6 linked regions of the Homo sapiens genome follow. The protein of the gene in region 4 purifies or fractionates together with the protein of the main gene of each other region. This does not show direct contact. Each region holds a gene or a part of one and is shown on either strand. Other genes may lie near its edges. The genes, in order: PCDHB11, ZNG1A, HMGCS1, SPANXB1, CSAG1 and BPGM.

Region 1 (4,432 bases), on a different chromosome or scaffold from region 4:
GGTCAAGAGTTTAAAACCTGCCCGGCCAACGTGGTGAAACCCCGTCTCTACTAAAGATAAAAAAAAAAAAAATTTAGCCGAGCGTGGTGGTGGGCGCCTGTAATGCCAGCTACTCGGGAGGCTGATGCAGGAGAATTGCTTGAACCCGAGAGGCGGAGGGTGCAGTGAGCTGAGATCACACCATTGCACTCCAGCCAGGGCGACAGAATGAGACTCGGTCTCAAAAAAAAAAAAAAAATTGGGGGAGAAAAGAAAAAATTAAAAATACAATTAGTCGTATTGCATAATAACGTAACTAGTTTAAGACTAAATAATATTGATATGGTTACATAAAACTAAAAAAGTACATGCAAATGTAAATAGCATTCTTACTAAAAATTAAATCCAAAGCTATTTCGAAAGGTGGAGTTTTCTTCACTATTCTTCCCAAGACCTTTTGCCTGGATATTAGGGATAACCGGTTTTAGGAACTTGAATTCATTTGTCTCGGAACCTCCCGTCAGACACACCTCGTACTGGTAGCTCTGGGAAAGGGTCCCGGTGCCGCTCACGTCCACCAGATGCCCTGGAAAGGGGCCCTTAGGCACCGAGCAGCTTCCCACCGAGGCCGCCCTGCTCCTCCTGCACAGCCGCACCGCCACGAACAGGAGCACCGAGAAGAGGAAGAGCGAAGACACCGAGGCCAACGCCACCACCAAGTAGACGGTGAGCGAGTCGGCCTGGGCCTGGGCCGGTGCCGCCTCAGGGAGCGGCAGGTAGGGCTGGGAGAAGCCGTCCACCAGGAGCACTTGCAGCGTGGCGGTGGCCGAGCGCGGAGGCTCGCCATTGTCCTTGACCAGCACCACCAGCCTGTGCTTGGCCGCGTCGCGCTCGCTCAGCAGCCTGGCGGTGCGCACCTCGCCATTGTGCGCCCACACGCCGAATAGCCCGGGCTCCGTGGCCTTGAGCAGCTGGTACGACAGCCAGGCGTTCTGGCCCGAGTCGCCGTCCACCGCCACCACCTTGGTCACCAGGTAGCCCGGCTCGGCCGCCCGGGGCACCAGCTCGGTGCAGGGCGCGGAGCCGTTCTGCAGCGGGTACAGCACGAAGGGCGAGTTGTCGTTGGCGTCCAGCACCAGCACGCGCACCAGCGCCTCGCTGCTCAAAGCCGGGGAGCCGCGGTCTGTGGCGCCCACGCGGAAGTCGAAAGCCTGCAGGGCCTCGTAGTCCAGCGACCTGAGGGCGAACAGGTGGCCGTTGTCTGTGTTGATGGAGACCAGGGAGGCGAGGGGCAGGTGCAGGTCCTGGGGCGGGAGTAGCGAGTAGTTGACCTGGGCGTTGGTGCCTGAGTCTCTGTCTGTAGCGCTGACACTGCCGATGTGCAGGGCGGGGCTGTTGTTCTCGCGGACGAACAGGGTGTAGGAGGTTTGGGTGAAGGTGGGGGCGTTGTCATTGACGTCAGAGACCAACACAGTTGTGTTGTGCTCGGTTTTCAGCCTGGGTATCCCCAAGTCGGTGACGGTGATGGTGATATTGTACTCGGCTGTGCTCTCTCTGTCCAGTGGTCTCTCTGTTTCCAACGTGTAGTAATTCTCAACTGAAGATTTTAGCACGAATGGGAGGTCTTCCGGAATGGAACAAACAATTCTTCCGTTGTCCCCAGAGTCTATATCTTGGATACTAAAAACCATAACCACGGTCTCTGGCGTATTTTCTGGGATTGGACTGGTAATTGATGACACAGTGATTTCAGGAGCATTGTCATTTACATCTATCACGTGAATTATGACTGTAGATTTTCCAAAAAGTCCTCCCCCATCTGTGGCTTGAATGATTATTGAGTATGACTCAATCGTTTCAAAATCCAGAGGTGCTCTTAAAGTAATTTCTCCAGACTTTTGATTAATTTCAAATGTCTTGCGAATATCTTCTGAGGCATGGGAAAAGGTATAGCATATTTCACCATTTGTTCCAGAGTCTAAATCCCAAGCTGAGACAATCAAAATCAGCGAGCCAAGGATGCTATTCTCCCGAATCTTCACCTCATAAAAAGCCTGCTCAAATTCAGGGGAGTTGTCATTAATGTCCACAACCACCACCCTGACCAAGGCAGTTCCAGACCTGGGAGGGGACCCACCATCCAGAGCAGAGAGGATGAAACTGAGCTCCGGGAGCTCTTCATAATCCAGCGCCTTGTCCAGAACTAACTCGGGGTATTTCCTATTGTCTGGAATGACTCTCATTTTAATGTGAAAATGAGAGTTGGGGCTTATTGTGTAGCTTTTTACAGCATTGATTCCTACATCTAAATCCTTCGCACTTTCTAGTAAGAACACAGCACCAACGGGACTGTTCTCTGGGATTTCTAGGAGCATTTGTTTTTCCGAGAAGATGGGAGAGTGATCATTTATATCCCTGACCTGAAGCTCAATTTGTAAAAACTGCGTGGGGTTTTGCATTAACACCTGCAAATGTAGCACGCAAGGCTCGATGGAACCGCAGAGCTCCTCCCTGTCTAGTGTTTCACTTAAGAGCAAATCCCCAGTGTTTATGTCCAGCTGCAAACGCTGTTTCTTATCATTAGAGACCACCCGAGCCCCCCGTGAGGACAGTTCTCTCACCTTCAGCCCCAGGTCCTTTGCCAGATTGCCTACAAAACTCCCGCTCTGCATTTCTTCTGCCACAGAAAAGCTCCAGGTTTCAGAGCCCGCCTGAGACATTCCGAGCAAAACAAAGAGAAGCAGGACTTGCCTTATCTGCTGAGTGCGTGTCCCTTGGTTCTCCATAGTTCCTTTCTTGTAGGCTTCTTGAAGAAAGGCTTCAGCTCTGCGGAACGCGTCTCTGACTTGTCCACCAAATCCTCTGTGGTCTAAGGATTTTAACCCTGTTGAATGGTTTCCAGGTCACCCTCTTGAAGGCTTGTTGTTTCTGTCTTCTGATTCTCTGTGTGCACTGGATATCAGTGTTCACAACGCCATCCAGTGAATATATTTTTCACGATGTTATCCTGCAGCGCCACCAAGTGTCTCCATAGATTTTCACAGTTTGGTGAAAGCTACCTAAATTCCATTCACTTATATGTCCTCCGGAAACAAATATTGTTTTATTCATTGTGTTCAAGTGATTACAAATATATTGCACGTTCTGTAATAATTATTTCATATTCTCTTTAGTTTGATATGCTGTTAATATTCATCTTAAAGCATTTATCTTTCCCCCTTCTCCATACAACCAAACGTGCTTAGTTGTGGTGAATACAGAAATACAAGATGTGATTCCTGGCTCCCAGTGGTTTGTAATCTTTCTGAGAAGACTGGAAACATAAAACAACCATAATATTTTTAAGCTGTACAAAATTCTATCACTACTTGACTTTCCTTAGGTGGTAATGAAAAGGCAAACTATACATGGGTCATTTTAGAAGTCCTCTCAGAGGATATGAAACTGGATTAACCATGAGATGGGACATACTTTGATAGTTATGATAGCACAAGAAGGCATTTATATAGATTTCCTTGGTAGCAAGGAATTGTGAACTGCTAGAAAGTAAAGTAAGATATTGGGAGTAGAACACATTATGAGAATCCTTGATTTAGTTCCAGCTTCTCAAAAAATAATAAATACACAAGCACAAGCATGTTAGTTTCATTTAAAGCAGGCTTATTTCTAAGACTGCCCTCCCTCAGTTTCCCAAGATTTATTCCAGCAACATCTATGGCTATCTGCTTTGTTTTTCAGCTCAAGAAGACAGAATGAGAGATATTTTCTTCCTCAATAATAGAACAAAATCTTAGCCTTCATTCTGATTAGACCAACTGAGAGCACTTCAGCCTGTTACTGAAGAAATCAGTGTCTCAAGATGTATAGGATTAAAGGTAGAGATTATAGTCCCAGAATCTAAAGACTCCATCTTTGACCCTTTGTTTTAATCCAGGCAGAGATTGCCCCTTAAACTTGAGGTGGTTTCAGTCCTAGCCAAAGTGCATGGCATAATGAGGGAGATAGTTGGAATAGGTGCTTGGAAACTACCAATGGTATCCACTGTTAGACATCTCAAAGTACTCTCAATAATGGAGGACATCTAAGAAGTCTGCTTTTAAAAATTCTAATTTCAAATTACATTCACAAAAATGTGAACTAGATACATGGTTGAAAAATTATCAGTGCAGAAGAGTAGAAATTGAATAGTATGTGGATTGACTATACAATTATCCTTCCTTCTTCTTAACCCCTCTCTAAAATGACAGAAAAGTAATAAAAGGTATGAATTCACAAAGACTAAGAATACATAAGTAAATACACAAATTATTTGATGATAGAAAGCAGATGAAAGAGCAATTGACAATAGTTCCAAGAAATGTCTAAAATAAAGTTCCTTCATTGGAGATACTAAAAATAAACTACTGGGTTTTCCCTACACAATCCTAGTAGGTACCAGACTTGGAGGAACCAG
Region 2 (3,559 bases), on a different chromosome or scaffold from region 4:
GAAAAGGAACATATTCATGGAATTTTACATTGCTTAAACCATATATATTAGGTATTATACTTTCCTCAGCATATGTGCTGTTTTTTTGGAATTAGCAACTCCATTTCCTACATTCTGCACAGGTACCAATGGATTTAGTATTTACACAAACTACTACCTTGTATTTTAAAAAACTCACTCAAAAACCCTGATGAAGGGGTCCTCATTATTTAATTCATTCTTTCGTGGATTCTCAGCAATAAGAATATATGTAACACATACAATGTACTCACTACACAGGGCCAGGTACTTTTGCCTGAGTCACCTCATTTTATCTTTTGACTTACTCTTCACAACAATCCTGGGGAGTGAAGATAACTATTTCATTTTATAAATTGGGGAAAATAAGGGTCAAAAAAATAAGCTACCCAGAGCCAGGAATAAAACTCAAAACCAAAGTAAATCTGTTCTCTTAAAAAAAAATACAAAAGAAAGGCTTGGCTTATCTTTAACTGAATAAGCATGTGCCAAGAGGAGAAGAGTTCTTAGCGATGAGAATGATAGGATAATGCCCTCTTTGGCTTTAGTAAGGGGGACATCATCATGTATTGAATATTAACTTTAGGATTTATTTTTCTTCTTTATCTTGATAAATCTCTCACTGTCTACCCTAAAGAAACAGAAGCTTAACATTTCCTCTAACAGGTCACCTAATTAAAACCCAAACCTCCCTTTGCCAATATAACCCCAAATTTCAAACTCAGAGATGAAAATACACAAGGGCTAAGCATAACATTATAAAAACATACACCCCACCTTGGAAAATAGAGGCTCAAAAGCCAAGCTCAAAATGAATTTAAAAAGGTAGAAAATAATATACTAAAGCACATCTTTGCATAACTTCCTAGAACTGCATATCTGGCCTAGCAATTTTACTCACCATTACATAATCATACAGGCTTACAGCAGAAAATACAAAAAGACCAAAACTATTTTATAATCCAAACTCAAGAGAATCGCTAAAGTATTAAAGACCAATTTAGGCAGAAACATATGAGACATTTCTTTCTTTCCATAGGTTACTGGGGAACAGGTGGTGTTGGTTAACTTCTTTAGTGGTGATTTGTGAGATTTTGGTACACCCATCACCTGAGCAGTATACACTGCACCCAATTTTTGTCTTTTATTCCTCATCCCCTTCCCACCCTTTCTCCCTGAGTCCCCAAAGTTCATTGTGTCATTCTTATGCCTTTGCATCCTCATAGCTTAGCTCCCACTTATGAGTGAGAACATAGCGATGTTTGGTTTTCCATTCCTGAGTTCTTTCACTTAGAATAATAGTCTCCAATCTTATCCAGGTCACTGCGAATGCCATTAATTCACTCCTTTTTATGGCTGAGGAGTATTCCATTGTATGCATATATATCACAGTTACTTTATCCACGCATTGATTGATGGGCCTTTGGGTTGGTTCCACGTTTTTGCAATTGCCAATTGTGCTGCTATAAACATGCGTGTGCACGTATCTTTTTCGTATAATGACTTCTTTTCCTCTGGGTGGATACCTAGTAGTGGGATTGCTGGACCAAATGGTAGTTCTACTTTTAGTTCTTTAAGGAATCTCCACAGTTTTCCATAGTGGTTGTACTAGTTTACATTCCCACCAGCAGTGTAGAAGTGTTCCGTGTTCACCACATCCATGCCAACATCTACTATTTTTTTGATTTTTTTATTATGGCCATTCTTGCAGAAGTAAGGTGGTATCGCACTGTGGTTTTGATTTGCATTTCCCTGATCATTAGTGATGTTGAGCATTTTTCCATATGTTTATTGGCCATTTGTATATCTTCTTTTAAGAATTGTCTATTCATGTCCTTAGCCCACTTTTTGATGGGACTGCTTTTCTTGCTGATTTGTTGGAGTTCATTGTAGATTCTGGATATTTGTTCTTTTTCAGATGTATATATTATGAAAGATTTTCTCCTTCTCTGTGGGTTGTCTGTTTACTCTGCTGACTGTTCCTTTTGCTGTGCAAAAGTTCTTTAGTTTAATTAAGTCCCAGCTATTTATCTTTGTTTTTATTGCATTTGCTTTTGGGTTCATGAAATCCTTGCCTAAGCCAATGTCTAGAATGATTTTTCCAATGGTATCTTTTAGAATTTTTATAGTTTCAGGTCTTAGATTTAAGTCTTTAATTTATCTTGGGTTGATTTTTGTATACAGTGAGAGAGGAGGATCCAGTTTCATTCTCCTACATGTGGCTAGCCAATTATCCCAGCACCATTTGTTGAAAAGGGTATCCTTTTTCCACTTTATGTTTTTGTTTGCTTTGTTGAAGATCAGTTGGCTGTAAGTATTTATTTCTGGGTTCTCTATTCTGTTCCATTGGTCCATGTGACTATTTTTATAACCGTACCATGCTGTTTTGGTGACTATGGCCTTATAGTATAAGTTTGAAATCAGGTAATGTGATGCCTTCAGATTTGTTCTTTTTGCTTAGTCTTGCTTTGGCTACGCGCATGTGTATGTTAAACCATCCCTGCATCCCTGGTATGAAACCCCTTGATCATGGTGGATTATCTTTTTGATATGTTGTTGGAATCAGTTAGCTAGAATTTTCTTAAGGATTTTAGCATCTATGTTCAAGGATATTGGTCTGTAGTTTTCTTCTTTGGTTATGTCCTTTCCTGGTTTTGGTATTAGGGTGATACTGGCTTCATAGAATGATTTAGGGAGGATTCCTTCTTTCTCTCTCTTGTGGAATAGTGTCTTTAAGACTGGTACCAAGTCTTCTTTGAATATCTGGTGGAATTCTGTTGTGAATCCGTCTAGTCCTGGACATTTTTTTGTTGGTAATTTTTTAATTACCATTTCAATCTCCCTGCTTGTTACTGGTCTGTTCAGGGTAATTCTTCCTGATTTAAGCTAGGAGGGTTGTATCTTTCCAGGAATTTCTCCATCTATTTTAGGTTTTCTAGTTTATGCATGTAAAGGTGTTCATGGTAGCCTTGAATATCTTTTGTATTTCTGTGGTGTCAGTTGTAATATCTCCCGTTTCATTTCTTATTGAGCTTATTTGGATTTTCTCTCTTTTCTTGGCTGATCTTGCTAACGGTCTATCAATTTTATTTATCTTTTCAAAGAACCAGCTTTTTGTTTCATTTATCTTTTGGATTTTTTTTGTTGTTTTGTTTCAATTTCATTTAATTCCGCTCTGATCTCCTTTCTTCTGCTGGGTTTGTTCTTGTTTCTCTAGTTCCTTGAGGTGTGACCGTGGATTGTCTGTGCTCTTTCCGACTTTTTGATGGAGGCGCTCAGGGCCGTGAACCTTCCTCTTAGCACCGCCTCTGCTGTGTCCCAGAGGCTGACAGGTTGGGTCACTCTTGTCGTTCAGTTTGAGGAATTGTTACATTTCCATCTTGATTTCATCTTTGACCCACTGATCATTCAGGAGCAGGTTATTCCATGTATCGGCATGGTTTTGAAGGTTCCTTTTGGAGTTGATTTCCAGTTTTATTCCACTGTGGTCTGACAGAGTGCTTGATATAATTTTAATTTTCTTAAAATTTATTGAGGCTCA
Region 3 (3,699 bases), on a different chromosome or scaffold from region 4:
AAGGAAAATTCAATTTATATTTCAAACTGCCAAGTTTCTCCTCTATTATTTAGGCTTAGCCTCTCTGCATTAAACAAGGAGCTTTTGGAGAGCAGGAACCGTGCTTTGTTCATTTTTGTGTCCCCGGTACCCAACCCACTGTTTGGCATATGGTAGATGCTAATGTTGAATAAATGAAATGGTACTAGACTTCTAATCTAAAGTCATTAACACCCATAGGAAATCATAATCTTGAAATACAAAAAAAGCAGAATTGTAAGAGAAGCACTCCCTGACAATATGAGAAAGCAATGGCTGCAAATAATTAGATTACCAGTTGAAACACATTTGAAATTACTGTCCATTCTCACATAATTTTTTTTTTTTTTTTTTTTTGAGACAGAGTCCCACTCTGTTGCCCAGGCTGGAGTGCAGTGGCGCAATCTCAGCTCACTGCAACCTCCGACTTCTGGGTTCAAGCGATTCTCTTGCCTCAGCCTCCTGAGCTGCTTGACTTACAGGCACCTGCCACCAAGCCTGGCTAATTTTTTTGTATTTTTAGTAGAGACTGGGTTTTACCATGTTGGCCAGGCTGGTCTCAAATTCCTGACCTCAGGTGATCCACCCGCCACAGCCTCCCAAAGTGGTGGGATTACAGACGTGAGCCACTGTGCCTGGCCCATTCTTACATAATTTTAAACATTCATCCACAGCCCAGATACATATCTTTTGAGGCCATAATTTAAAAAGCACTAATGGCAGTCATGTTTACCTCTGATTGTTTCTGATTAAGTAGTCCATGTAATTACATTTTATTATAAGTACTTTTTCTCTTATGAGTGAACACTAATTTTTAAAATTTGTTTCTAGATTTTAAACATTAGTCTAATAAACATAAAATTAGTTTCCTGAAGCATTAAAGCATTAACAGAATTTTAAAGATGAGGTAGAACCCTAAAAGGGGTTTTAAGAACATATGGCACAAACAAATCGTTATTTTCTCTAGGATACCAAGTTTCCTCCTTCCATTAGAGAGGAATACTTTCCTTAAGCAGCATGACAGGATGTCATACCTGTGTGAAGGATAGAGAACTGCAGTCTCCAGGTCTGTCACTGTTTCCTCCTTCGGGCACTAGGAATTTCAAACAAGAACTGCTTTTAAAGTTATAAATCACTACCCAAATTCAAATACTAATGAATCCAATTCAAAGTGAGTTAAAATAAGCAATTCCTTATCCAATTACATTATGCAGAATAGAATTTGACATTTGCTTAGAAAAAATCATACTTAAAGCTTATAGAACATTTTCCCCCTTATTTTCATAGCCCTTATAGTGAAAGGTTCAGTCCTGGTAATAAACGGATATAAGAAGCCTACTATTGCAGGAAGGAATAAACAAAAAAACCTCAAGGAAATAAGAAGCCCATGTCACCAATTGAGGCTTTAAACCAAGGTTTTCAAGAATTGGGGGAAAGGAATATAAACAAGTTGTAATGAGTTAGCAAATTTCTAGAGTAAAGAGATATATGCAGTCAAGAGCCTGCACTGCATGTAACAGATTGTGGCTTTGGCAGCAATTCTGGACCTCAGTTTCCTCATCTATAAAATGAAGCTAATACAGTTGCCCTCCCCAGATCATTGTGAAGGATTGCTGAGATGATAAAATATGTGAAGACACTTTGTAACACAAAGCACCAATACACTGACTATTACCTTAGTTCTTATAGTTCTTATAAGTGTTTTTCAAAGAAAATAAAGGTATTTTTTCTAGCAAGACCTAATCATTTTCAACACTGCCACCTTCACCCTCCCAACCTTTTATAAAGTGATTTTCCCTCTTACTGCTTATGTTAAAAAATTAAGCATTTAGACAAAGGAGCATTAAACATTATTATGTAAATTAAGTAGAAATAATTTGCGAAGGTGACTGGAACATATTCTTCAGTCCATCTGTTTTGAAAGACTGATTGTTACTTGAGATGGCAACTTCTATGTTTAACACAGCATACACCATTTCCTCTGCTCTCTATTTAATTACTGGCAAATTTAGCATCTGCCCTTAATGGATTCACTGGTAACTACATTCGGATGTTATTAATATTTAATAAAGCTTTACTTTTTTTACATAATTACATAATTTAAGAGCTCTTCAGTCGTAGCGCCTTTTACTTCATTAACTAAGTTTACTACCCACCTACGCCCCCCTGCCCCATAAAAAGAAATAGATCTTGAGTTTTGTAGGCAAAGAATACTACAATATTCCAAAAATGTCTCTAATTAACTGTAATTATACATACTTTGAGAAAATAACCTATCTTTGTTCTTTATTATCTCAAATTATGCCTTTGTCTTCTGCAAATTAAGCAGACCACAGAGACCAGTTCTTGAAAAACAAGATTCCTTCTCCATGTTAAGACTACTTAAATAATAATATTTCTTCTTGATGTTCATGTATGTATATGCATTTGACACTACTTGTATCAAGGAAATTTTCCTTGAACTGCCTATATTCTGCCTTTCCTTGCACTGCCTATATTCCCTCAAATTTTTTTTTTTTTTTGAGACAGGGTCTCCCTCTGTCACCCAGACTGGAATGCAGTAGCATTCCAGTCACTGCTCACTGTAACCTCGACCTCCCAGGCTCAAGTGATCCTCCTGTCTCAGACCCCGCAAGTAGCTGGGACTACAGGCACATGCCACAATACACAGCTGATTTTTGTATTTTTTGTAGAGATGGGGTTTTGCCATCTTTCCCAGGCTGTTCTCCAACTCCTGGGCTAAACCAATCCACCCACTTTGGCCTCCCAAAGTGCTGGGATTATAGGCGTGGGCCACCTTGCCTGGGCCCCTCTTTCTATTTTGATTACTTAAATTGGAGAGGGATGTTAGGTGGGAGAGACACAGAGAACAAAGAAGAAACAAATAGAAGATTCAGAAAGGATTGCTGTGCTACTTAAGGATTTCTCTATTCTGGCTAAACCAGTATTGCCAAAGTCTCAAGCAGATCACAAGCTTATTTCTAACAGGTCTTTTCAGAGTAAGTGACAGAGGGAATCAACATGGGTCAAGAAGCAGTTAATGAATGGCAAGTAGCCAGGCAGGTTACCACAAAGCAGGTTTGCAGACTCATGGGATGAAATATAGGCACTTTGAGTCTGGCAAAGACTAAAACACAAGAATGATAAGACTGCCTAGGGCCAACCAGATTTATGCAATGGTAGTTTCTTCTGGAGTTTACTCAGTGTTCTGAATACTTCCTTCTGGCTCCCTCCTTAGCCTTGATTCAAAGAAGTGGTTGGAGAAGTTCATTGCCTACACATTTTGGTATGTAAACTATAAAATATAAACAGTTACCTATTGATCTTTCTCATTGTTACAGGAGATAAATCTAGGAAATTAAGAACAAGTTGGCAACCTTTCCTCCTTAGGAGCAAGCAAGTAAAAACTAATGTTAAGAAAGACTTGCTCAAACCTGTACACTCTGGTATAGTTCTCCAAGTAAAAAGCATGGACATCCCTGCCTCCTCCCAGAGTTACTGGTCTGCGTATCAGAGATTCTACTCATCTTCAAGGCCCTGTTCTAAGTCACCTCTTCCTGGAAGCTTTCCTCGATAAATCACACAGAAAATAAGTTTTCTAATCAGGGACCTGCACTTCTACAGAGGTAGGTCATTCATACCCAAGTCTACATAGCCTACTCTCTATGGAAAACTAGTTAT
Region 4 (3,039 bases):
AACACTGCTGAGGTTATTAAAACAGTAACATAAATATTTAAGATGCAGTGTACATTTTGTTTTAAAATTTGGCTTTTCAATCATTTCATTACATGCAATGCTTTCCTGCCGTTTACTTACTCCTACATCTACTATCTTCTTTTGTATTGTGCTTTGTGTTTTACAGAACATTTACGCTTTATAAAGCATATATTTCTAACCTAGGAAAATATCAAATGGAAAGGGGATGGGAATACCTTTGATATGTCCATTCAGCAGAACTATGTGCTGCCGGGTACAGTTGCGTGAACATATACACATCTCCACTTCCTGTGAGATAAAATTTTAAGAAGAAAATTTTCTTTAGGAATCAGTCCTCCCCCAGGCCTTATTTACAATGTCTGGCTTACTGTCAACCTGTGGGTCTGTCCACCAACCCTACAGGACCTCATATCCCTCCCTTCTCAAATGCCTACCTCTTCCCTTCCCTTCACCCCCCACCATCAGAAAACAGGCAGAGATATACACAGCCATCAGCTTCTCAAACTTTATTTTCATTGCCGAAGTTTGAGGGATGTAGCTTCTTGCTACTTTTTAGGTCTTTCAGTCGTTATTTCTATGAATTCCTCCTCCTCCATTTGGTCGGGGTTGATTCTGTTCTCTCGGGCGTGGTCATTCAGCAGTTCCTCTGGAGATGTTCTTTTCACGTTCCTCCTGTAGCGAACCACTAGTATGGTCGAGGACTCAGATGTTTTCATTTTTTTAGGAGCAGGTTGCGGGTCTGAGTCCCCAGTTGGGGTCTCCGGCATCTGTTAAGAAAACAGGGAGAGGCCAGGAGGACATTATTTTGGGTGAACAGGATAGAGACTGGATAGCAAGGGGGCTTCATGAGAAGAAGGAATGCAGGTTGAGGAAGGGGTTTGATCCAGAGAAGAAGAAGGTTGAAGCACAGAGTAGGGATCTATGGGGAAGAAGAAGAGGAGCGTGGGTAGGGTCACCTGTGAGTCCAAACTGCACCATTTTGTCAGTTCTTTGCTATTTTGCAGACCTTGGTCAAAGTGAAACATCCCATGGGGGTTCAGGCCGTGAGAAACATCCTGCCTAACCACCTGTCCGCAAGGCGGACAAAGGCCCAACTGAAGAAACATCCCTATCATATCTTGCTTGGCAGCGTTCTAAGGAACACCACAATGATATTCCACCAGAAAAAGGGCCAAACCACCTGATCATAAGAACATCTTATCAATATCCTGCCGGGCAGCAAGCCATACTGCCCAGGCCCCTCCCACCCCTACCTACAAGCACCCCAGGTTGTAAGCGGCGGTGGGCTCTGGCATTAAGCGGGCCCCCCACTTCCACAATGGTCTGCAATATTCCTGTGTTGTTGTTTGAGCCGCCCCCGCTCTGTGTGTCTTTCTTTCACCCTCGCCTTCACTTCAGAACCTAACAATCTTACCGTCTTGTTGGCCTCATTGGCCTCGTTGGCCTCGTTGGATTCACAGGGGACGCTCCTCTTCAGCCTGCGGACACTGGATTGTTGGCCCATTGTATATATTGGTTCTTCGATGTCTACAGTAGGTTTTTGGAGCTTTTGAATCTTCGCAGTGGCCCAGAGCTCTTGCCCTCCCTATGCATACCCTCCTGGTGACAAGGCAAAGCCACACCCTTGAGCTTTGTTTGATCATACAGGCAGTGTCCCAGCCAATGGCAGCCCTAGGGTGGCTTCGACGTCACAAAGCCCCACTGCTGACCACTCCCTGGGCTTGCGGGCGAGGGGTGACAGGGGTGTAGAGCAAACCAAATGCTGTTGTTGTTTCAGCATCCCCTGAAGATGCATCCCAAACCGATCTGCCGCCGCTCCTCATTTCTCCATGTTTAATGTTCACGGTTCACATGGAAGTCAGAGGATGATTCCTTCAAGCCCTTCCCCACAGCCATTCCTATTAAGTGATTCATTCTTTTGTCTTCCAGCCCTCACCATGACTTAGTATTTTCGATGTCTCACCTCAAATCCCCCACGCTAGTGTGGCTACATTTATTTATTGGCGGAGATGTGAATTATCCCATTTCCCTCCTACAGTTCCTTCACATGCACCTCGAAGACCATTTACTTTTGGGCTACTGCCAGGCAAATTTCAACCCATGTTCTTTTACCCAATGTCCATGTAGTTCTTTTAAGTTTCCTATCTCCAATCTGAAATAATGGCCTTCAGTCTGTCAAAACTTTAGTGAATAAACATTCTTTACCGTGTATCCTAGTCTTGTTTCAAATCAGGGGTGTATATTTTTTTCTTTTTTTCAAATGGAGTTTCACTGTTGTTGCCCAGGCTGGAGTGCAGTGGCATGATCTCAGCTCACTGCAACCTCTGCCTCCTGGGTTTAAGTGATTCTCTGGCTCAGCCTCCTGAGTAGCTGGGATTACAGGCCTGTGCCACCACGCCCGGCTAATTTTTGTATTTTTAGGAGAGACGGGGTCTCACCATCTTGGCCAAGCTGGTCTTGAACTCCTGACCTCGTGATCCACCTGCCTTGGCCTCCAAAGTGCTGGGATTACAGGCGTGAGCCACCACACCCAGCCAGGACGGCCATTATTAAAACCACCATTGACAAGTAAATTTTGGTTACTTCTGTAGCATACAAGAATTTAACATAAAAGTTATAATTAATAACATACACAAGTTATTTCAGAAGTATAAGAGTTTCCCATAATTTTGGAGCACATATCAATGACATTTCTATAAATACAGCCCAAAGAAAGTCAAACACCATTTTATATTTGATGATGCTTCTTGTATGATTTTTATACCAAATAAGACCAATATGTCTCTTTTGGACTTCAGAGGACTCATATCAAAAAATTAATGAGGAATGAAGTTAGAATTTGACTTTGGAAAGTTCGTCAAAGATAAAAAGTTTAAAATGCTTGATATCACGAAATAGGGTCATGGGTCATTGTAAAATAAGTCATTCATTTAACCAAAGCAGTAACTCAAATGTTTCAAAAAAAAAAAAAGGTGAAAATCTTTATTCTTTGAGAGAGGAGGCTTAATATCCCAAACA
Region 5 (3,937 bases), about 12 Mb from region 4:
TTAAATTGTTTCTCAGTATTTAGGAGAAAAAGTAAGCAGAAAACCAGGAAGGATATAGATGACCTGAAAAGCACCATTAACTACTCTGACCAATTAAAATAATGAGAAAAGCACTGCATTCAACAACAGCAGAATAAACATTCCTCTCAAGTGTGCATGAAATATTTCCCAGGATAGATGGTATTCTGGGCCATCAAACAAAGCTTACAAATTGAAAAAAAAAATAGAAATAATAAAAAGCCTCTTCTTAGACCATAATATAATTAAATTCAAAACCAAACACCAAGATATCTGAAAAATGCCCAAATATTGGAAATTTTAAAATATGCTCCTAAATAACCTATGGGTCAAAGAGGGAGTCTCAGGAGAATTTTAAAAATACATTAAGTTGAATGAAAATAAAAATATACATACAAAAATGGGATTCAGCTAAAGTGTTTCCTTGAGGGAAATGTATAGCATATTTTATGTTTATATTAGAAAATGAAATCTAAAATCAATAACCAAAACTTTCACCCTAGGAATCCAAAGAACAAAGAGCAATTTGAATTTAAAGAAATTGTAGAGGATCCCCCCATCCCTTCCCACACTCCCACCTCTTCCCCTTAAGCCCTACCCCCAACCTTTGAGACACACAGACACACACATCATTTTACAACATGTTCATTTTATTTCCATCACCATGGGGCATACCCTTTGGGGTGTAAAACGTACTCTACACCCTGTTGGCTATTTATCTGGGGTTAGACTTCTGGAGACTTTTCAGATAGACTTGAAGTCTCTGGCCTTGCCTGGGAATTACTGGCTGCCCAAGGAAGCACTGGAGAAGGCGGTGGTCTCCTTGCCCTTGTGGTCCTGCTATGGCGCATTTTGATTGAGTTCCTCGTTCGGCTGGTCAGAGTGGCTGGATAGTGTTGGCCCACTCCATTCCTCAGGTTTTTTTGAAGCGGTGGTCTTTTAGGGAGAGCCTTTTGTTCCTGGAACTTCCTTGACGGGTCCCTTTTCCCTTCTGGGTTGTCTTGGGAACCTGGAAAGCCAACAGGGAGATCACAGGAGGGCACTGGTTTGGGGAAGAGGATGGAGGAGGGGTGAGAACAGGGGTTTCATAGAGAAATGGTACAGGCTGGGGTGGGGGTTGTGCCAGGGGAGGACAGGGTAGGAGTCAGAGCTTGGGTGGGCCATTCACTTTGATAGGGCTTCTGGGCCAGGGATGAGAGGATGCTTTCCCCTTCCTCGCCTCTTTGGTGTTGATGGGTGGTTGTTGGAAAATGGGCTGGAGGCTCGTGGTTTCCTGGACATCTTCACCAGACCAGTGTCTCTGTACAGTCTACTCCAGTCCACCTGGTCTCCCCGAGCTTCCCCCAGGACAGTGAAGGCAGGCCAGCAGGCTAGAAACTCACACGACATTATTATGTTAGTCTTGTGGTAGAATTCCTTTTCCAAGAAACCTTGGTCTTTTAACACCTTCAACTAATTGGATGAGGCCTATCCACATTATGGAAGTTAAATTGCTTTACTTAAAGTCAACTGATTGTAAATGTTGATCACATCTACAAAATACCTTCACAGCAACATCTAGACTACTGTTTGACCACACAGCTGAGCAGTATAGCCTAGACAAGTTGACACATAATACTAGCCACTGCAAATATCTTGCACCGTACAAAAATGTGACTCAAAATGAACCGCAATCTTAAATGCCAAAATTACGGGCTTTTTTTCTAGGAGGAAACAAAAAAAAATTGTGTTACCTGAGGTTATGTACTAGTCAGCTCAGGCTAGAATAACAAAATGTCATTGACTGAGTAGCTGGAACAACAGAAATTTATCTTTTTTCACAGTTTTGAAGTCTGGAAGTCCCAGATCAAGGACTGGCGGGGTTGGCTTCTGGTGATGGCCTTATTCCTGGCTTGTAGATGGCCCTTTCTCAATATGTCCATTCTTGGCCCTTCCTCTGTGCATGTGCAGAGAGCGCGCGAGAGAGACAGCGAGCTCATGCAGGCACAAAAATGCTATCTTCTGTCTCTTCTCCCTTCTTATAACCACACTAATTCTATGGGATCAAGGCCCCACCCTTATGACCTCTTTTAACATTAATCACTTCCTTAGAAGCCTCATCACCAAATACAGACACCCTGGGGCTGAGGGCTTCAAAATATGAATTTGGTGGAGGACATAAGCATTAGCAAAGAATAGACACATAGGTTAATAAAACAGAATAGAGCTCAGAAATAGACCTGCACACATATAGTCAGGTGATTCACAACAAAGGCAATAATGGTGAAAGTACAGGTTTTCCAACAAAAGGTGTCGGAACAATTAGACACCTATACACAAATTATAATAACCTGGACATATCCTTACATATTCCATGAAAACTAACTCAAGATACATCATAGGTCTAATGAAAAATGCAAAAACAATACAACCTCTATAAGAAAACATGAGAGAAATCCACATAACTTTGAGTTTGGAGATGAGTTTTTAAATTCAACACCAAAAGCATGATCAAGGAAAGAAAAATTTGCCAAGTTGATTTTATTAAAATAAACATCATGTGCTCTTCAAAAGACAATGTTAAGAGAATGAAAACAGAAGCCACAGACTAGCAGAAAACATCTGCGGTACACATATGTGATAAAGAACTTGTCTCTACAATATATGCGAATTCTTAAAGCTCAGCGATAGAAAAAAATGAAAATAGTCAAAGATCTGAACACACACTACACAAAAGAAGATACACACATGGCAAATAAGCATAATAAATGTACTAAGCGTGTTTTGTCATTAGATAATTGTGTACTAAAATGAGATACCACTACACACCTATTAGTATGTCCAAAATCCATAAAAAAGCAAAACAAAGCAAACAAAACCAAGACCAATTGCCAGGGAAGATGTGGAGCAACAGAAACTCTCATTCATAGCTCGTGGAAATGCAACATGGCACAGCCACTTTGGAAGACAATTTGGCGTTTTCTTAAAAAACGGAACATAGACTTAGCGTAAGATTCAGCAGCCATACTCAATCAATTTACCCAATTGATTTGAAAACTTATGTCTACATAAAAATTTGTATATGAATGTATACAATAGCTTATTTCACAATCACCAAAAATAGCAGCATCCAAAATGTATTTCATTTGGTGAATGGATTATATATATATATATATACACACATACACACACACACGCATTAAAATATGGTACACCCAATGATACTACTACTCCTCAATGAAAAGGAATAAGTTACAAGCTGCACAAAGTTTTACATGACTCTTCAGTTCATTATGCTAAACGAGTCTAAAGAAACGAGTCTAGAAAGAAACGAGTCTAAAAAGGCTACATAGTATACGAGTCTATTTATATGACATTCAGGAAAAGGCAAAATTATAAAGATGAAAAACCTATCAGTGGCAGCCAAGGGGGTTATCTGACAAGCACAGGGGATTTATCAGGGCAGTGAAACTAGTATGGTAATACTGTAATGGTGGTTCCGTGCTTGCTTTCATCTGAATATTTGTGTTCCCACAAACTTCATCTGCTGAAATACCAAGGTGATGGTATTAGGTAGAAGGTGGGGTATTTGGAGAATGACTAGTTCATGAGAGCAGAGACCTCATGAATGGGATCAGTGTTTTTATAAAATAGTCCCCACAGAGATCCCTTGCCCCTTCCTCCATGCGAGGACATAGGGAAAAGGCAGGTGTCTAGGAACTAGGGAGCAGGACTCCACCAGACATGAAATCTGCCAGCACCTTGATCTTGGACTTTCCAACCTCCAGAATGTGAGAAATAAAGTTGTGTTGTTTATAAGCCACCTAGTCTACACTATTTTTGTTATGGAAGCCCAAACGGACTAAGACAATGGCAAGAGGCATTTGTCAAAACCCATAGATCTTTACAGCACAAAGAGTGAAGCTTAATGTATGTAACG
Region 6 (3,699 bases), on a different chromosome or scaffold from region 4:
TGTAACTCCTCTCAAGTTTCTGAGTTCAAAGTGAGCAAAGGGAAGGCATGAGAAAGAGATGAAGTTCAGCAAGCTAAAAGACAACTGAAAGTATTCAAATTATCTACTTTAAAAACACTCCTTTATTAATCACATAGACTTCTAAATTCTAACTATATGCTTCCTGTTCTATATTAACAGAAAGGACCTAGGTGAAACAAGTTCAGGGGAGTCCAAGGGTTTGTCTTTACTTGAGAGTGGCAGAATAAGTTGTTATTGGTTAGTAATCAATGCACCTTTTCATTTTAATTAGCCATTGATCCTAACTGTGAGCACCAGCCAAACAGTCACAGAATCGTAGCACTGGATGCTTACTGCTGGGGTGGCTCTTTATTAGAATTTCACGTCAAGGCCTAGAAGAGCTCCCTAATAACTCTTATACACAAACTATCCATACTCAAACAACTATGAAAAATGGAAAGGATCTTAACTCAGAAGACACAGTCTCTTCCAAGTAAGTGTACTGTCCCATCACCTGCCCTGCCAGTACCCCTTCAATGTAATACAGAATTTTAGGCAAGTAACTTCTCTGGACCTCCAATTCTCCTGTCAATTAAAAAAGAAAGAAAGAAAGAAAAGAAACACACACTCTTCCTTTGCCAGCATTTTAAAGGGTTGTGGGATAAAAGGGGTGGCTTAAAAGAGAACATACATGAACAAAGGGTAGCACAATAAGTGTCTCTTCTTTCTCTATTAGGAATTCCCTTCTAGGTAGCAGATTTAATGGGAAGGCTACTAAGATACTCCTTTGCCCTGCCAAGCCCCACCCTCACACTGCAACCTTAGAGAAGATTACCATCACAAACTACAGCTGCTGAGAACAAATCTACTCAGACCAGACCTCTAGCTGTTTAGCAGGGAGATGACTACTCTAGATTCTAAACACCTTCTGGCTTCAACAGGCCAGAAATGTCAGCTAGCCGCACAACAGCCACCACAAACATCCCTTGGAAAGAGCAGGAGGGGAAGTCAACAGCCTGTTGTTTGGAGTCAGGTGACCACTGAGCCTTTCAAATCCAACAGTGCTCACTCCCAAATCCAGGGGAAGCTCTGGAGGTCTCCAAACCTAACTCATTCACTAACTAGTAACTGAGGGCCCTTTATATTCCTAGTACTCTGTGGAAGAACATGTGTGAGTGACCTTGGCCAAGATTTTACCTCCAATGAACTATTTTTTCATTTATAAAATAAGTCCCTCTAGCACCAACATTCCTGTATTTTATTCTTAATGGTTAAGAAAAGCAGAGGCACCTTAGAGACACAAGAGCATGAGTACACTGAGTACTGTTTACATTCATCTACTGTGCAAGGACCATGCTTTATCTGTTTCCAGAGTCTGTAAGCATATTGCTCACTAAATTGGAGAGAAAAATGGATTTTATAGATTTCTCCAAATAATCTAAATTTTCACTATAAAAAATTAATTTGTTAAAAGATAACAAAAGTGACCATGTTTGACTAAAGCTTACCAGAAGTAGAAACTATGAGTGTATATATCTATCAGCATCTTGGATTCACCACTCATAGATGTGTGCCTTTGCAGTGTCACCAACTATTAATCTTAAGTTCTTGAACCTAGGACTTTATTGTAGAATGACTGAACATTCTACTTCTATTCAACATTGTATTTAAGATCCTAGCTAGGGCAACTAGGCAAGACAATGAAATAAAAGGCACCCAGATTGGAAAGGAAGAAGTAAAACTATCTCTATTTGCAGATGGTATGATCCCACCAAAAACCTGTTAGAACTAATAAACTCAGCAAGGCTGCAGATATAAGAACAATACAGAAAAGGAAATTGGGTTTTTAATACAGTAGCAATAAGCAACATGAAAGATTAAGCAAACAATTCTATTTATAATAACATCAAAAAGAATAAAATGCTAAAAATAAATTTAACCTAAGAAGTACAAAACTATACTCTGACTACTACAACACAGTGTTCAAATGAAAGAAAACCTAAATATGTATTTATGGATTAGAAGACATAACACTGTTAAGAGGGCAATATTTCCTAAATTAACATACAGATTCAATACAATCCTATCAAAAATCTCAATGGACTTTTTTGTATAAATTGACAAACTGATCTTAAAGTTCATATGGAAATCTAAGGTACTCAGAATAGCCAAAACAATCTTGAAAAAGAAGAAATAAACCAAGGGACTCATAGTTCCTGATTTCAAAACTTACTACAAAGCTATAGTAATCAAGATACACACAGATCAATGAAATAGAATTGGGAACCCAAAATAAACCCTCATATTTTTTATCAATTGATTTCCAACAAGTGTGCCAAGACAATGAAATGCAGAAACAATAATCTTTTCAACAAATAGTACTGGGATAACTGTATATCCATATGTGAAAGAATGAAGTTGGACCCCTGACTCATACTTTATATAAAAATTAACTCAAAATGAATCAAAGACTTAGAGTCAAGAGCTAAAATTGTAAAAATTTTTAGAAAAAAAGCCATAGGAGTAAAGTCTTCATCACCTTGAGTTAATTAATGGTTTCTCAGATATGACACCAAAAGCATACACAAGAAAAAAATAAACTGGGTATATAAAAATTAAAAATGTTTGTGCTTCAAAGGACACTATTAAGAACATAAAAAGGCAACCCAGAGAATGGGAGAAAAATTTGTATATCATATATAGTCTAGATACAAGTTCCTTATCAGATATAAGAACTGTCTCCAATAATAAAAAGACAAATGATCAAATTTAAAAATGGGCAAAAGGTTTAAACAGCCATTTCTCCAAAGATATACAAAAGGTCAATAAGTACATAAAAATAGGCTTAATATTACTAGCTATCAAGGAAATGCAAATCAAAACCACAATGAGATACTACTTTGTACCCTCTAGGATGGCAACAATAAAAAGTCAGATTATAAACAAGTGTGAATAAGGATGTGGAGAAACTGGAATCATAATACACTGTAAAATCAGGTATGCAAAAGGCTATAGCCTCTTTCGAAAACAGTCTGGCAATTCCTTTTGTTAAACACAGATCTACCATATGACCCAGCAATTCCACTACTAAGCATATACCCAAGAGAAGTGAAATATGAGTCTATACAAAACTTGTACACAAACCTTCATAGCAGCATTACTCATAATAGTCAAAAAGTGAACACAACACAAATGTCCATTAACTAATGAACAGATAAATTAAATGTGGTATATCCATACAATAGAATATTATTTGGCAATGAAAAGGAATGAAGTACTGAACCAAACCACAACAAGGTTCTTGGATGAATCTTGAAAGCATGATGCTACTAAATAAAAGAAGCCAGTCACAAAGGACCACTTACTGCATAAGTCCATTTACATGAAATGTCCACAACAGGTGAATCTATAGTGACACAAAGTAGATTAGTTGTTGCCCAGGGCTGGGTGGAATAGGGGAGGAACTGGGGGGGTGATAACAGCTAAGGGGCACTGGGTTTCTTTTTAGGGTAGTGAAAATGTTCCAACATTGATTGTGGTAATGGATTTACAATTTTGTGAATACACTAAAAGCCATTTAATTGTATACTTTAAATGGCGAATTGCATAGTATGTGAATTATAACGCAATAAAGATGTTAAAAAATAGTAAACAGGGCTGGGCGCAGTGGCTCATGCCTCTAATCTCAGCACTTTGGGA

What was found.
Region 1: the proteins of SPANXB1 (region 4) and PCDHB11 purify together in Homo sapiens (co-immunoprecipitation; one large-scale study listed by IntAct). This does not show direct contact.
Region 2: the proteins of SPANXB1 (region 4) and ZNG1A purify together in Homo sapiens (affinity purification with mass spectrometry; one large-scale study listed by BioGRID and IntAct). This does not show direct contact.
Region 3: the proteins of SPANXB1 (region 4) and HMGCS1 purify together in Homo sapiens (affinity purification with mass spectrometry; one large-scale study listed by BioGRID and IntAct). This does not show direct contact.
Region 5: the proteins of SPANXB1 (region 4) and CSAG1 purify together in Homo sapiens (tandem affinity purification; one large-scale study listed by IntAct). This does not show direct contact.
Region 6: the proteins of SPANXB1 (region 4) and BPGM purify together in Homo sapiens (affinity purification with mass spectrometry; one large-scale study listed by BioGRID and IntAct). This does not show direct contact.

The regions. Positions count from the first base shown.
Region 1 is NC_000005.10:141,198,108-141,202,539, reverse strand, and holds the start of PCDHB11 (protocadherin beta-11 precursor), read right to left. Parts: upstream 2,914-4,432; 5' UTR 2,766-2,913; coding exon 372-2,765; 3' UTR 1-371. UniProt on the Homo sapiens protein: Potential calcium-dependent cell-adhesion protein. May be involved in the establishment and maintenance of specific neuronal connections in the brain.
Region 2 is NC_000009.12:123,527-127,085, forward strand, and holds part of ZNG1A (zinc-regulated GTPase metalloprotein activator 1A), read right to left. Parts: intron 1-3,559. UniProt on the Homo sapiens protein: Zinc chaperone that directly transfers zinc cofactor to target metalloproteins, thereby activating them.
Region 3 is NC_000005.10:43,306,714-43,310,412, forward strand, and holds part of HMGCS1 (hydroxymethylglutaryl-CoA synthase, cytoplasmic), read right to left. Parts: intron 1,132-3,699; exon of another isoform or gene 1,112-1,131; 5' UTR 1,053-1,111; intron 1-1,052. UniProt on the Homo sapiens protein: Catalyzes the condensation of acetyl-CoA with acetoacetyl-CoA to form HMG-CoA, which is converted by HMG-CoA reductase (HMGCR) into mevalonate, a precursor for cholesterol synthesis.
Region 4 is NC_000023.11:141,001,180-141,004,218, reverse strand, and holds SPANXB1 (sperm protein associated with the nucleus on the X chromosome B1), read right to left. Parts: upstream 1,626-3,039; 5' UTR 1,526-1,625; coding exon 1,436-1,525; intron 789-1,435; coding exon 567-788; 3' UTR 513-566; downstream 1-512.
Region 5 is NC_000023.11:152,726,837-152,730,773, forward strand, and holds the end of CSAG1 (chondrosarcoma-associated gene 1 protein), read right to left. Parts: intron 1,389-3,937; coding exon 1,238-1,388; coding exon of another isoform or gene 1,187-1,237; intron 1,028-1,186; coding exon 958-1,027; 3' UTR 648-957; downstream 1-647. UniProt on the Homo sapiens protein: May play an important role in maintaining centrosome integrity during mitosis.
Region 6 is NC_000007.14:134,674,169-134,677,867, reverse strand, and holds part of BPGM (bisphosphoglycerate mutase), read right to left. Parts: intron 1-3,699. UniProt on the Homo sapiens protein: Plays a major role in regulating hemoglobin oxygen affinity by controlling the levels of its allosteric effector 2,3-bisphosphoglycerate (2,3-BPG). Also exhibits mutase (EC 5.4.2.11) activity.